Homo sapiens: one gene and its partner. The protein of the gene in region 1 interacts with the protein of each later gene in a pairwise test. Each region holds a gene or a part of one and is shown in the gene's direction. Other genes may lie near its edges.

Region 1 (8,046 bases):
TGATACCATTTACCAAGCATTTGCTAACAGCTTTAAGAGTTACACAATAGATCCCAGCACTTTGGGAGGCTGAGGCGGGCAGATCACCTGAGGTCGGGAGTTTCTGATCAGCCTGACCAACATGGAGAAACCCGGTCTATACACCCGGGAGGCGGAGGTTGCAGTGAGCTGAGATCACGTCATTGCACTCTAGCCTGGGCAACAAGAGCGAAACTCCACCTCAAAAAAAAAAAAAAAAAAGAGCTACACAATAAATAACTTGCTTTAACACATCAATAGCTTCACATTGATACAAAGACAATGATTGTAATGGTTAATTTTATGTGTCATTAGGCATTCCACCAAACATAATTCCGCATGTCTGTGAGGGTGTTTACGGATGAGACTAAAATTTGCATAAAGGAGAGTGCCCTCCCTAATGTGGGCAGGCCTCATCCAGTCAATCGAAGGCCTGAATAGGAAAAAAGTCTCAGTAGGAGGAAACTGCTCCCACCAGACTGATTGACTTGGGACGTCATCTTTTCTAGCCTTCCCAGTAGGACTCAGTCATCTGTTTTCCTTGGGTCTCCACCCTGTTTGCTTTCAGACAGGAAATAAACCATCAGCTCTTCTGGTTCTCCAGCCTTTGGACTTGAACTGAAATGACATATTGGCTCTCCTGGGTCTCCAGCTTGTGAACTGCAGATTCTGGGACTTCTCGGCCTACATAATTACTTCAGCCAATTCCTTATAATAAAATTATACAATATATTATATATTATATTATATTATATTATATTATATTATATTATATTATATTTACAAACACAGACTATTAGTTCTGTTTCTCTAAAGAACCTTGACTAATACAAGAACCAATCTCTACACTCCTTAGCATGGCCAAAATGCCCTATACGACCTGGTTTCCATCTACCCCTCCAACTAAATCTCAGACAGAACATGATGCCACCTCCTCCACTCCACCCTCATCAGCTTTCTTCCATGTCCTCACACATACTGTGTTTCCTCTGTCATGGGGTTTTCACTCATTTATTTATTTATTCATTGATAAACTCAACTAATTATTGAATTTCTACTATGAGTCAAGCACTGAGGTTGTACTGGGAATATAAAGTGAACAGGTAACAATGTGGCTAGTTTCATGGAGAATATGTTCTAGTCACAGAAGACAGAAATAGATCTACAGCCATACCTGAACATGCCTGATCTTGGAAGCTAAGTGAGGTCCAGCCCGGTTAGTACGTGGATGGGAGAAGACAGAAATAGCATGTAAATAAACAGGTTAATTTCAGGACGTGACATGTGCTTCAAAGGAAACAAAACAGGGTGAAAGAATCATTTGGTGATCAGAGAAAGCCCCACTCATAGGTGTTTTTTAAGTACAATTTTATATGAAGGGGCCATCCATGTGAGGACTTGAAGAAGGAGCATTCCAGGCAGAGAGAATTACAAACACAGAACTAACTGTGAGATAAGTTTATCTATAGATAAACACAGAGAGAGAGAGAGAAGCTTATATACATATATATGTGTGTGTGTGTGTGTGTATATATATATACACACACACACACACACACACACACATATGGCATGTGTCTATAGCACAGTGGGGCAGCAAGAGAAGGTAGATAGGTAAGCGGAAATGAGATAAAGCCTTAATAGCCAGAATAGGATTTAAATTTTTATTTGAAGCACACTGAGAGGCTTTGGAGGGTTGACATCATCTGATTTAATGTTTGATTTCACACTGCGATGTTTAACAGTGGACATGGGGAGACTAGTAAGGGAGGTTTGCAGTAAGGATGATTGGTGGTAGCAGTTTGGATTATGGGGATGTAGAAAAAAATGAAGAATGATTCAGGATATATTTTGGAGATGGAACAGATAGGAATTGCCCATGTGACTGGAGAAAAGAAAGGGTAACTCCTAAGTTTTTGACTTGAACAATCAACTGGGCAATAGCATCATTTTCTGAGATATGAAATTCTGGGTAGAGATGGGAATGGGGCTGGGGGAGGGCAAGGGGACAAACTGCTCATACTGTCCTTCTCTTGGGACTGTTTTTCACTCCCTCTTCACCTAGTTGACTCCTTCCTATTCTTTGGATCTCAGCTCAAATGTCACTTTCTCAATGAAGTCCTTCCCTGATGAGTTCAAACCAAACCTCTATATTAAGTATACACTCAATTGCTGCCATGTAGTTTCCCCTAATAGTAGACTGGAAAAGTAGCCACCAATTCCTCTACCAACCACACCATCCGTAACATTTCCACTGCCCTCTCACTCTGATCCCTCTAGTCTAGGCCACATGGCTTGCATCCGCCAATAGTGTATCAGCAAACATAACATAGGCAGAGACTTGAAAGGCACTTGTGCAGTTGACTTGTCCTGCTCCACTGTTTTGGAACTCTGAAACCATGGAAAGAAGCCTGGCTGAGGTGCTAGACAATAAGAAACACGTGGCCCCTGCTGACGACCTGCCAATGCCGTGACACAGAAGTGAGGCCTCTTAGATCATCCAGCCGCCAGCTGACCAGAAAGGTGAGTAAGAGCCCAGCTGAGCAGAACCAAGGTAAAAGAACCACCCAGCTCACTCAGAATCCCAAGCTAACCAAACGATTGTAAAACGTCACTAAGTTTTGTGGTGATTTGTTACACTGCAAAAGTGGATACAGTAGCACATACCTCAGTGGCAATTTTACACATCTTTGATTAGCTTCTATCACTGCCACATAACTGTGAGCTCTCTAAAAGCACAGACTATTCTGACCTTAGGTTACTGTGCCAACCTCAAAGCCAAGCATAATACCTGGAACACACCAGGCATCCAACCAATAACATGCTGAGCGAATGCAAGGAGCAAAGAGAGATACACATTGTAACACAAGCGAATAGGGGAAGTTCAAAACAAAGGACTGAGGACATCTATTTGTACAAAATAAAAACTTTTAATCAGCAGCACACGGCAGCGAGGAATACAAGACCAAAATCACATTTAATCTGTCTCAAAGGGTTCAAAGTCTAGGGTACAGGAGGCAGTACAAAATCAACGAAGTGTACTGTTTGAGCATTCCAACACTTCGCTCCTTCAGACAGTATTAGGACCCCGTCCCAAAGCGTTAGGACAAGGCCCTAACGCTGCCTGAAAAAGTGAAGTGACGGAGGATCCCAGAGAGGTTTCTTGAAGCAGATAAAGTCTGAATTGAGGCCGGGCCCGGTGGCTCACGCCTGGAATCCCAGCACTTTGGGAGGCTGAAGGGGGGCGGATCACTTGAGGCCAAGAGTTCAAGACCAGCCTGGCCAACATGGCGAAACCCCGTCTCTACTAAAAATACAAAAAATCAGGCCAGCATAGTGGTGCACGCCTGTAATCCCAGCTATTTGAGAGCCTGAGGCAGGAGAATCGCTTGAACCCAGGAGGCGGAGGTTGCAGTGAGCCGAGATTGTGCCACTACACTCCAGCCTGGGCAACAGAGCGAGACTCCATCTAAAATACATATATAAATAAACAAAGTCTGAATAGAGTCCTTGCAGTATTTACTGGGAAAAGCAGCACACGCAAGGCCAGGAGGGTCAAAGGGACAGAGGCGTTCAAAGGACAAAGGAGAGCCTCCTGTTTGTTTGGGGTTTTATTCTTTTTGAATTTTTGTTCCCCCAGGCCAACTCTAAGAGCCAGAACTGTTCGTTATTTATCTCAGCACAGGTTCGGTGTAAGCGTTGCCTCCTTACCCGACGCTCAGGCCCTTCAGGTCCGGGACCCCTGCTTCTTAATTATGTTTCTATTACTCCCAGTGTCTAACACAATCTCTTCCACGAAGTCGGAACTTGATACATATTTGCTGAATAAACGAAAAGTTAAAGATGAGGCAGAAAGCACAGCTCCTTCCAAGGGCAGCTCTCAAGAGCCCACGTTTTCAGATTCAGCAGTGAAGCGGACGCGTCTGGTACGAGACTACAAGTCGCACAGGCGGAGAGGGGGCCCCCGGGCCTCTGGTTTCACGTCTCCCTCCTGGTCCCCGGCGGACCGGCGTCTTTTCTCCCCTGCTCGGAGTAGCCTAGCAGCGCTGGAGGCTGGCTGTCTGGTAAGCGCGGCTGTTAGAGAGGATGGAGGCGCCGTAGCCCCGCGGTGCTTCTCACAGCCTTCGCCGGCAGGGACGCGCGGGACAACCGCGCAGGCGGCTCTGCAGGGGTGGGCGCGCCATCACCCCTCTCGGTCCCTGCCTGCTTGGCGCTTTCCGAGCCCCAGCCGCGCTCAGGCTGCCTCGGGCATTGACCGCGGGGGCGCGCGCCCCGTTTCCATAGAAACGCCCGGCCTGCCGCGGCGGCGCGAGGGGCGGGCTTTCAGGCTCCCGGCGGCTGCTTGCGCCCCAGCGCGCGCCCAGGCGCCTTGGAATCCCCGTCCTTGGGCCCCCGCAAGGTCCCCGGCCGTGCGCGAGGCAGCATGATGAGGCGCACCCTGGAAAACCGGTAACAGCCCGAGCCCAGCTGCCCAGGGCCGCCCACACTGGAGGGCTGGGGTGAGGGAAGTGGAAGCCTCTGTCCATGGGGCCTCTGCGCCGAATTCCGACCCTGAGTGGGAGGCTGCACGGTCCCCGCTGTGACCTGGGGCCTAATTCCTTGGGCTGCAGCCACCGCCGGCGGCGAAGAGGAGCCCGGGGCCCGGCCGGCTGCCACCCACCCACGCCACCGGGTCTCGGGTCCCCACACTGCCGCGGGCAGTGCGGAAGCCTAGGAGGCAGCCGGGCGCCCAGGCCGCGCTGCGCGGAGCAGCCGGAGCAGCCACCTCCCCAGTTAAGGCCAGGCCCACCCGGCCTGGGCCTTTTCCTGTGCCTACACAGTCCGGATAGTGAGGTCAGGACCCCATGGAGAGCAGTCCGCGCCGGGAGACGCTGGGTCGTTGATGGGTTTACGCCTTCAAAGCTGCAGAATGCCCGGGGAATGTTTGCATGTTAAATTAACGTGAAGCCTTCTCATCTCTAACGAGAATGTTTTGCCTTTTGTGTCACCTTTTCCCTAGGAACGCTCAAACGAAACAACTGCAAACAGCTGTCTCAAATGTGGAGAAGCATTTTGGAGAACTGTGCCAAATCTTCGCTGCCTATGTGCGGAAAACTGCCAGGCTGAGAGACAAAGCAGACCTCCTGGTGAATGAAATTAACGCGTATGCTGCTACAGAGACCCCGCATTTAAAGCTGGGCCTGATGAACTTTGCAGATGAGTTTGCCAAACTTCAGGATTATCGACAAGCAGAGGTATGGAGTGAGATCACAGTGTCATTGTTATGAATGAGCCATGAAGTAGTGGATGAAGGAACCGTGGAAACTTTCACTTGTAATCTACCTAACTGCAGAGGTGGATGCAAACTTGATAAAACGTACATTTTCATAAGACTGTGTGAGTCTATTAAAGAGAAGCGTTCTGTGTTTTATTTTACCCTTTTCAAGCTAACCTTTAGGGCATCTTGAGGTCTTGAATTTCCCCACTTTATTTGCCAACTTTTGGCCAAGGGGTGGCTGTTTACTGGGGGTAGTGGGAATAGTACCCAGGGGGAAGAAAATAAGCATAACTTAATGTCTTGTGTGGCACATAAGTACGTTTTAAAGAATGACTGGAGATGGAAATGTTGGGAATGGTAATGTGGATGGATAAATTATTAATAAATGGGTAAGACATCATTGCTGCATCCATGGTTTGGAAAATTGACCAATGGTTTACTAACAACAACAAAATGCTATGAATTGTATCATGGAAGCAAACCAATACTGAGACACCGTGTGGACTTTTTGCTCTGGGTAGCAGGAGAAGTGTCCTTGTGATTGTTTTCTTTCTAAAAGCCCATATTTTTCCTTTAAATACTTAATAAGCACTTTTACTTGTATTTATTTTCAGTTTCACGGCATAGGTTAACTTATCAGAAGTTGCCCAGTTAGAACTGCGTTGCTTTTTTATACTTTTCAGAACCTAAAACGGGAATTTCAATTTTCAAAAAACAGAATGAGTATAAAAAAAATTGAACTCATCATTGCTATCCATACAAATTTGAAGAGTAATCATATTTGGAGGTACTTTTGGAAAAATGTGGAGTTCTTGTCATGAAACTTCTGTAATAAACAAGTAACTCTCAATTATATATGATAACTGGGGACTTAATGTTTCAAAGATAATTTATATTCACAGGTAATCCTAAAATCTTATTTTAGCCAATAATTTCAATGCCCCTTTGTAGAAAACCTTTGTGCTATTTATCAAATAGCAAAGTGAATTGATTTGCATTTGTTCTCCTTTTATTTCCCTTGCTTACCAAATGGTGGAGGTCCTAATGAACAATGACAAAAAGGTAGGCAACAAAAAGGAGAACAGAAAAAAGACTTAGATAATCCTTAAACTGAATAATCAGTATGGATTATAAGAAATGGTGTAAAGCAAACTGTCCTGAATATCCATGATTTTAGGATTCCTAATATTTGAATACTTGATGAGAAGTCGATTTTTATTTTCCTAACATGTTTTAAAATGAAACATTCATATACATTTCATTTACAGAAACTAAAGAAAAATCAATATGAAATTAAGTGTATTTGTCAATTATATAAATATGTATCATTAAAAAGCCCTTTTCCTGCTATTAAAAAATGTTCATTTTAAGCAATTGAATACATCACCTATCTTGAGAAAAAAAATTTTAATGTCCAAGAGTTATTTTTCTTATGCTATATTTAAATACTTGCCTTAAAAAAAATCTCTCTTCAGTGCCTTCCACTAGTACTACTTGTAAAAGAAGTAATTACTCAAAATGTGATTTAAAAACCTGTAACGTTTAAGAAAAACTATTTAATTCTAAATGAAACAGAGATGAAACATACAGTTTGACAGCTCAGCAACTCAGACCATTTATCTTGTTCTGTAGGCTTCGATAATTCACAAATGGCTTCTCAGAAAAAAAAATGCAGCAAATACAGTGATCTCTAAGCTTTTTTGCTTTTCAAGGTTATGTTGCTTTAAATGTTTCCAAGATGCTCTGTCTTTCAGCTTTGATTTTCTTTTCTGAAAAGTTGAGCTATTACAGTTCAGAGATAATATATGCAAAGTATCCATTACTGTGCTGAACACACTGAAAATGTTAGCTGTATTAAAATTTGAACTGTCTTAACACCCTTAAACTACTACTTTAAGGTAAAAAAGTAATCCTAAGATGATGATGTGGCCAGGATGAGCTCCTGGGAAACCTGAGACATTTTCTTGTCATTTTGCTCACCAGGTGCTTTTCTACTTTTACTATTACTGTGCAGCTTAACAGTTTTTAATGTGTTTTGAGTTTAGATTCTGAGTCTTATCAATTTCTAGTGATTAGCCTTTTATTTATAGGTTAAAATGTTAAACGTTCTAATTTAAAATTTTAATAATTTTCAATAGGTTGAAAGACTTGAAGCCAAAGTAGTTGAACCCTTGAAAACTTATGGGACCATTGTGAAAATGAAACGGGTAAGTAAATCCATTTTCTCACTTAACTGTGAGTTACTCTGGCAAAGACTATGAGGTTTCCAATTGTTTTTTTAAATAAGAAATACAAAGTAGTGGCCAAGAGTGGTGGCTCATGCCTGTAATCCCAACACTTTGGGAGGTCGAGGCGGGCGGATCACGAGGTCAGGAGTTTGAGACCAGCCTGGCCAACATAGTGAAACCCCGTCTCTACTAAAAATAAAAAAAATTAGCTGGGCATGGTGGCATGCACCTGTAATCCCAGCTACTCAGGAGGCCGAGGCAAGAAAATCGCTTGAACCCAGGAGGCAGAGGTTGCAGTGAGCTGAGATAGCGCCACTGCACTCCAGCACAGGCGACAGTGTGAGACTCTGTCTCAAAAAAAAAAAAAGAAAAGAAATACAAAGTAGTATATAGTCATTCTTTTTACTCTGAAAGATCACTTAGATCTTTAAGAATAATGAAATAGTTTTAATGAGCTTATTAAGTATACTGTAGCAATATAGACATTATTATGGAAACTTTAAAATAATTATGAAAAATATATGGACAGAAATTGCTTTACTA
Region 2 (7,954 bases), on another chromosome or scaffold:
GTAAAAACTCATGAAACCTTACACTTATGATTTGTGGTAGACTTTTCTGTATTAATGTTATATATATATATATTTTTTTTTCTTTTTTAACCTTTTTTTGGTAGAGACGGGCCCTGCTAAGTTGCCCAGGCTGGTCTTGAACTCCTGTGCTCAAGTAATCCTCCCTCCCTGGCCTCCCAAAGTGCTAGGATTACAGGTGTGAGCCACTGCTCCCAGCCTAAATAAAAAGTTTGCTTCTCCCCTCCTTTTCTCCCCAAAAACCAGGGTGTTATCAGGAAATCTACTTAACTAGGCCTAGGTGAATTGCAATAGGTTGCATTATGCTAAAAGCAAATGTACAGGTTGGGGGGGTGTTGTTGTCAGCTCCGCCATGTCGTGGACCTGCCCCCTTTTCAGGACACCTCACGTCACCTTCCATAACAGAACAGGTAACGTGACATATGAGGTGCACTGTTGACAAGTGACACTGGTGACAAGTGAGGAGCACTGTTATCAATCTGGAAAGGAAATATAAGCATAGCTTTACTCATTTATTTATTTATTTTTTTAATTTATTTTTGAGACAGAGTCTTGCTCTGTCACCCAGGCTGGAGTGCAGTGGCGCAATCTCGGCTCACTGCAACCTCTGCCTCCTGGGTTCAAGCAATTTTCCTGCCTCAGCCTCCCAACTAGCTGGGATTACAGGCACCCGCCACTATGCCCAGCTAATTTTTTGTATTTTTAGTAGAGACAGGGTTTCACCACGTTGGCCAGGCTGGTCTCAAACTCCTGACCTCTTGATTTGCCCGCCTCGGCCTCCCAAAGTGCTGGGATTACAGATATGAGCCACCGTGCCCAGCCATTTCTTTCTTTATTTTTTTTTTTTTAGAGACAGGGTAATGCTCTTTGACTCAGGCTGGAGTGCAGTGGCATGATCATAGCTCACTGGAGGCTCAGACTCATAGGTTCAAGTGATCCTCCCACCTAAGCCTACTGAATAGCTGAGACTACAGGCACGCACCACCATACCTGGCTAATTTTTGTATTTTTTGTAGAGACAGAGTTTTGCCATGTTGGCCAGGCTGGTCTTAAACTCCTGGGCTCAAGTGATCTGCCTACCTCAGCCTCCTGAGTCACTGAGACTGTAGTTGTGTGCCACCATGCCAGGCTAACTTTTTTTTTTTGAGACATGGTCTCTCATTCTGTAGCCTAGACTGGAGAGCAGCAGTGGACCACAGCTCACTGCAGCCTCAACCTCCCTGGGCTCCAGCGACCCCCCAGCCTCAGCTTCCCAAGTAATTGGGACTACAGGCATGCGCCACTGTGTGCCACCCAAAAAATCTTAGCATACCGCGTAGCACAAAGGGAGCGTTCAGCACATGGGAGCTATTACCAGGCGTCTTAATCCATTTTGTGCTGCTGTTACAGATTACCACAGACTGGGTAATTTATAAAGAAAAGAAGTTTATTTGGCTCACAGTTCTGGAGACTGGGAAGTCCAAGAGCATGGTGCAAGTATCTGGTGAGGGTCATCCTGTGTGAGGCAGAAGGCTCACATGGTGAGCAAGTGCATGAGACAGACAGCATGGCAGCAGAACTCATCCTTTTGCCAGGAGCCCACGCCAGAGAAAACTAACCTACTCCATGACAATGGCATTAATCCATTCATGAGAGCAGAGCTCACATGGCCCAGTCACCCCTTATACTGTTAAACAATGGCAATTCAATTTCAACATGAGTTTTGGTGGGGACATTCAAACCATAGCACCAGGATCGTTAGTAGCCACATGATAAAATGTATGTCTTCAAGATTTGAAGACAATGGCATAAGGTCAGTGATCCAGCTGCTTGTACCCCTGACTTTTTCTGACCCTAGGAGAAGGGAGCACTGGCTTTGCTTTCATCAGGCCAAAGATGCCTTTCTTTGGGAATACGTTCAGTCCGAAGAAGACACCTCCTCGGAAGTCGGCATCTCTCTCCAACCTGCATTCTGTGAGTGTCGGTACTGGGGTCGGCCGGGTGTGCAGCATGAGTTGAGTGCTGAGCGTGTCTCTGAATGGAAAGTGTGGTCCTCCAGAGGCATCAGTGCAGGAGGGCATCCTTTCCGTCCATATCATTGCTATTGCGGAAAACATTTTTGAACTCTTGTTTGGGAATGATCGTCAGAGCTTGTTTATCCAAGAACCTAAGAAGACAATCTCATTATGATATTTGACCCCAAATATCCAAATTTTTTTTTTCTTTTTTGAGATGGAGTCTCACTCCCGTCCCACAGGCTAGGGTGCAGTGGCGCGATCTTGACTCACTGCAACCTCCACCTCCCGGGTTCAAGCGATTCTCCTTCCTCAGCCTCCTGAGTAGCTGGGATTACAACTGCCCGCCACCATGCCCGGCTAATTTTTGTACTTTTAGTAGAGACAGGGTTTCACCATGTTGGCCAGGCTGGTCTCGAACTGCTGATCTCAGGTGATCCACCCGCCTTGGCCTCCCCAAGTGCTAGGATTACAGGTGTGAGCCACTGTGCCCAGCCAGTATCATCCAATTTGACTTCTACTTTATTCTGTGACCTTTTCCTACAGAGCTAGCTATGCAGACTGGCCATGTCTTCACAGAAGGCGAGTGGGGTTGAACAACAAGGCTGTGGGGGCTGAGCATTCACTACAGGTTTCAGGTCTTAAGAGTCTGTTGTCTCCTGTTCCCAGTGAAAATCATGGTGGGGGCAGCCCCACTGTGGCCAGAGCTGGGCATTCTGTGGAGCAGGCCAGGCAGAGGCTTAGGATCTCAGTTTCTGGTGCCCCTAGGCCTGAGGCTCCCTTTCCTCTCTGCCATGTGTGAGAGATGCAGATACACCTGGCGGTCCCTCTAGGACATCCTCTGTCCTAATCCCACACAGCGTAAGAGCAGCAGTGTGCTTACATGACGTCTGTCTCTGACCGTGACTTGAAGTCGGTCCTCCCCTACATTGTTTTCCACATGCTGACAGGTACTTGTAAGCCTTGGTACTTGTAAGGCCTCCACAGCGCTCCATATGGTCACTGGTGGATTTTATTAGTTCCCCGTTATTACAGGATAACCACCCAGATCTTGGGAGCAGCACAAATGACCCTTGGTGGCCTCACTCCAGCTCTCCTTCCTGCCCTTGCCCTCTGCACACCCTGTGCTGCAGCCGCCCAAGCCCCGTGTGAACCTCCTCTGCGCACGCTACTCCTTCTGCCTAGAATGTTTAATTCTAGAATCTAGAATAGATTAATTAAAGAGCTATTGATTGATACCTTTCTATGTGCCAGGCACTCTCCTAAGCACTGGGCATGCAGAAGTGGATGAAGGAGGGGAGAGAAAAACATCAAATCCCTGCTTTCATGGGGCAGATACTTTAACGGAAGGCTACAGAAAATAAGCAAATTTATATCAGATGGTGATATGTGCCAGACAGCAAAACAAAGCATAGGCCTGGGATGGGGTGTGGCTGAGCACTGGGGACTGAGCTTTCATTTTCAACAGGGTGGTCAGGAAGGCCTAACTGAGAAAGGGACATTTGAGCACTTACCTGAAGGTCTCCCTGTGTTGAGCCGCTATTGAGGGCAGAGCTGGTCATACGCATCCCTGGATACCCAGTACCGAGTCCCGAATCGGGGTGGGTGCTCAGTGAGTTGTAGAAATGAATATCTAGGCCAGGCGCAGTGGCTCATGCCTGTAATCCCAGCACTTTAGGAGGCTGAGGTGGGCGCATCACTTGAGGTCAGGAGTTTGAGACCAGCCTGGCCAATGTGGCGAAACTCTGACTCTACTTTAAAAAATACAAAAATTAGGCCGGGCACGGTGGCTCACGTCTATAATCCCAGCACTTTGGGAGGCTGAGGTGGGCGGATCACAAGGTCAGGAGTTCGAGACCAGCCTGGCCAATATGGTGAAACCCTGTCTCTACTAAAAAATACAAAAATTAGCCAGGTGTGGTGGCGTGCGCCTGTAGTCCCAGCTACTCGGGAAGCTGAGGCAGAAGAGTTGCTTGAACCTGGGAGGCAGAGGTTGCAGTGAGCCAAGATTGTGCCACTGCACTCCAGCCTAGGCGAAAGAGTGAGACTCCGTCTCAAAAAAAACCCCAAAAATTAGCCGGGTATGGTGGTGCATGCCTGTAGTCCCAGCTATTCAGAGGCCGAGATGGGAGGATCACTTGAACCCGGGAGGCGGAGGCTGCAGTGAACTGAGATCGCACCACTGTACTCCAGCCTTGGTGAAAGAGCGAAACTCCGTCTCAAAAAAAAAAAAAAAGAAAAGAAAAGAATAGAATATGTAAATTGTACTGTCGCACGTTAAGAAGCAACTCCTCTTCCTCCTAATTGTTAGAATTTTATGTCTTTTCCACAACATATGTAGCTCCATATTAAGCAAATGATAACTTGGGGGACTATTACATTTAAAAAGAATTTTTCACTTGATTAACAGTTTATAGTAGGATTGCTTAAACTATTAAGTGTCAAGTAGGTATAAAATAATTCAATTTATAAATTTCAGTATATATAGCTTTTCTGGAAAACATCTAATGTATAAAACAGTATATTTTTTATCTCACAATTAAACTTTTCCTGTACATCATTTGATTTTATGGCTTTAAAAAAATCATTAAAGGTGCCAAGTAATGATTAGAGAAATGAGTTGTTGGGGTCATATTGTTGGCGGAAGAGGAGCTGGGATGAAGGCGTGTTCCGGGCCTGCTGAAGTTGTCACATAGCATCTCGCCCACAGTTGGATCGATCAACCCGGGAGGTGGAGCTGGGCTTGGAATACGGATCCCCGACTATGAACCTGGCAGGGCAAAGCCTGAAGTTTGAAAATGGCCAGTGGATAGCAGGTGAGCTGCACTTCCTGCCATTTTGTCAAACAAGATTGTAGGAGGAAATCCCCCTTTAACTGGTTCTGTCCTTCCTCCAGAGACAGGGGTTAGTGGCGGTGTGGACCGGAGGGAGGTTCAGCGCCTTCGCAGGCGGAACCAGCAGTTGGAGGAAGAGAACAATCTCTTGCGGCTGAAAGTGGACATCTTATTAGACATGGTGAGGCAGGTGATGGGGAAGAGAGGCCTAGCTTCTCCTTTTGGGGAGGCTCCACCTCGAGTCACTTAATCCAACAGATATCTCCTCAATGCCAGTTTGGCCAGGTACGTTGCTTTGCATCCAAAGCCACACGCAAGGAACAAGACACAGTTCCTGCCCTCACAGTGTAGAGGCAGGTGGACCGACCGTAAGCATAATTACATAAGGACCCAGTTGGAGTCTGCACAGGATCTGCACAGCACACGAGGGAGAAGTTATTTCTGTCAAGTCGGGAGAGCTTCCCAGAGGAAGGGATATCTGAGCTGAATGTGGAAGGATAATGGCAGGAATAGAGGTTAGATGAAGGCATTCCAGGAAGAGGGGTAGAGCCGGCTCATGGCTTGGAAGTGTCTCATACCAAGTAGGCATTAATCAGTGCCCAGTACAGACCAGCTGAGGGGCTCACACTGCATTAGTGTTGGTTTCTTGTGGCTGTTAAAAATCCAGCAACCCACTGGGCCTAGAGGAGCCTGTGAAGGTTCAGAGGCAGGAGAGCATACACTGTAGTGGTTAAGAGCACACACTCCAGAGCAAAATGGCCTGGGTTCCTCACCCAGCTCTGCTACTGACTAACTGCTCTGTAACTTAATTTCTTCAGCAATAAATGGCATAATAGCTAATTGTGGTGGTGCACCCCTGTAGTCCCAGCTACTTGGGAGGCTAAGACAGGAGGATGGCTTAACCTCAGGAGTTTGAGAGCAGCCTTGGCTGCAAAGTAAGATGCCATCTTTTTTTTTTTTTTAAAAAAGGACTAGGCTGGGCATGATGGCTCATGCCTGTAATCTTAGCATTTTGGGAGGCCAAGGTGGACGGGTCACAAGGTCAGGAGTTCGAGACCAGCCTGACCAACATGGTGAAACCTTGTCTCTACTAAAAATACAAAAATTAGCTGGGTGTGATGGCATGCGCCTATAATCCCAGCTACTCAGGAGGCTGAGGCAGGAGAATTGCTTGAACCCGGGAGGTGGAGGTTGCAGTGGGCTGAGATCGCGCCACTGTACTCTAGCCTGGGCAACAGAGTGAGACCCCATCTTGGAAAAAAAAAAAAGAAAAAGACTGACATTTTAGGCTGGATGTTTTTTTATTTTTATTTTTATTTATTTATTTATTTTAGACAGAGTCTCGCTCTGTAGCCTGGGCTGGAGTACAGTGGCATGATCTCCACCCACTGCCCCACTGCAACCTCTGCCTCCCGGGTTCAAGTGATTCTCCTGCATCAGCCTCCTGATTAGCACCCGCCACCACGCTTGGCTAATTTTTGCATTTTTAGTAGAGATGGGGTTTCACCATGTTGGCCAGGCTGGTCTCCAACGCCTGACCTCAAGTGATCTCCCTGTCTTGGCCTCCCAAAGTGCTGAGATTACAGGCATGAGCCACCACGCCCGGCCTGGATGTTTTTTTTTAAAAATGAGCATAATCGTAGTATCTACCTCATAGTGAGTTAGTACAAGAAAAGCACCCAGCCTGGCCGACAGAGCGAGACCGTGTCTCAGAAAACAAACAAACCAAAAAACAAAAACAAAAAAACCCTAAGGAGGAAAGTGGCATTCTATTTCTAGCATTTTTTCCCCTCATCCCCATTATGGGAGCTACAGCTTAGAATCAATTTCAGCTCTAATCCCTTAGCCTTACAATCACCAGTATCTGCCTTTGACGTCCTCTGAGACCTGCTCTCCTTCGTGCAGGGAGTGCCATGCCCTCGTGGGTGACAGCGTGCTGACAGAGTGGACTGTGAATATTCTTCAAGTACTTGTGGTCCTGGGTCATCAGGGGTTGCATTCTACCCAGTTACAGAGGGTTTCCCATCGAGGAAGCCAGCAGCATCAGAGAAGTGGCAGGGGGCCTTTCCTCCGTGTGTAGGGCCGGCCTTGCTAACCCGAAACATTTCCTAGAAATGTGCTGCTTGCTAACAGCCGCTGCTTCACTTTCAGCTTTCAGAGTCCACTGCTGAATCCCACTTAATGGAGAAGGAACTGGATGAACTGAGGATCAGCCGGAAGAGAAAATGAAGACCCCAGAGACATTTATTGGGGAGTAGGATGTGGCTGAGTGCTTTTTTTTTGGCCAGACTAGCGGATTCAGTCCTGGAAGAGAGTATCATATAATGAGACCCACAGGCACTGGCACCCTTGGGTTGGCAATAGAAGGTGACATGGAATGGAGAAAACCAAGATTCCAGATGGGGATAGTAACTAGAAGGTGCTTCAGATGCACTGCCTGCGGGTGCCAGTCTGAAAACCAGACCGCACAGAGGCCTGGGGCTGCTGATGAGCTTTTTGGTGCTCTCCACACACAAGCTCGCAAACACACATGTCCCAGAATAGCTCTGTTGGGTTGTGTTGGGAGAAGCGGCTGGAGTTCATTCTCTCACCCCCTTATGTTGGTGTTTGGCGTGTGACAGCAGTTCTACAGAGCTCTGTGTTGGGGTCATGGATGAGCGGCTCTCTTGGCTCTTAAAGGCAGGCCTCTCTCTTCTTGCCTTTAAAGAATCCTCCTTCCTCACACCTGGCCTCCTCTGGCTTCAGCTTCTCAGCAGCAAGCACCAGCCTTCCACAACAACACTATATTTTTATGCTACTTTCCTGTTTGCACTACTACTTTTTTATTAAACGATGTTAAATAATCTCTCTGTGACCAAAGTGACTAAAAAGAGAACCATGAGTTTCTCAAGAAGTAAATGGAGCTGGCCAGGCATGGTGGCTCACACCTGTAATCCCAGCACTTTGGGAGGCTGAGGTGGGCAGATCACCTGAGGTCAGGAGTTCGAGACCAGCCTGGCCAATAGAGTGAAACCTCGTCTCTACTAAAAATACAAAAATTAGCCAGGCGTGGTGGTGGGCACCTGTAGTCCCAGCTACTTGAGAGGCTGAGACAGGAGAATCGCTTGA

What was found. The genes of interacting proteins can lie anywhere in the genome.
Region 2: the proteins of CIBAR1 (region 1) and CBY1 interact in binary tests that used the Homo sapiens proteins (3 or more experiments, as listed by UniProt).

Annotation. Positions count from the first base shown.
Region 1 is NC_000008.11:93,696,207-93,704,252, forward strand, and holds the start of CIBAR1 (CBY1-interacting BAR domain-containing protein 1), read left to right. Parts: upstream 1-4,343; 5' UTR 4,344-4,441; coding exon 4,442-4,467; exon of another isoform or gene 4,468-4,542; coding exon of another isoform or gene 4,543-4,851; intron 4,852-5,017; coding exon 5,018-5,252; intron 5,253-7,413; coding exon 7,414-7,482; intron 7,483-8,046. UniProt on the Homo sapiens protein: Plays a critical role in regulating mitochondrial ultrastructure and function by maintaining the integrity of mitochondrial morphology, particularly the organization of cristae.
Region 2 is NC_000022.11:38,666,162-38,674,115, forward strand, and holds the end of CBY1 (protein chibby homolog 1), read left to right. Parts: intron 1-1,855; 5' UTR 1,856-1,893; coding exon 1,894-1,971; intron 1,972-4,722; coding exon 4,723-4,828; intron 4,829-4,908; coding exon 4,909-5,027; intron 5,028-6,997; coding exon 6,998-7,075; 3' UTR 7,076-7,689; downstream 7,690-7,954. UniProt on the Homo sapiens protein: Inhibits the Wnt/Wingless pathway by binding to CTNNB1/beta-catenin and inhibiting beta-catenin-mediated transcriptional activation through competition with TCF/LEF transcription factors.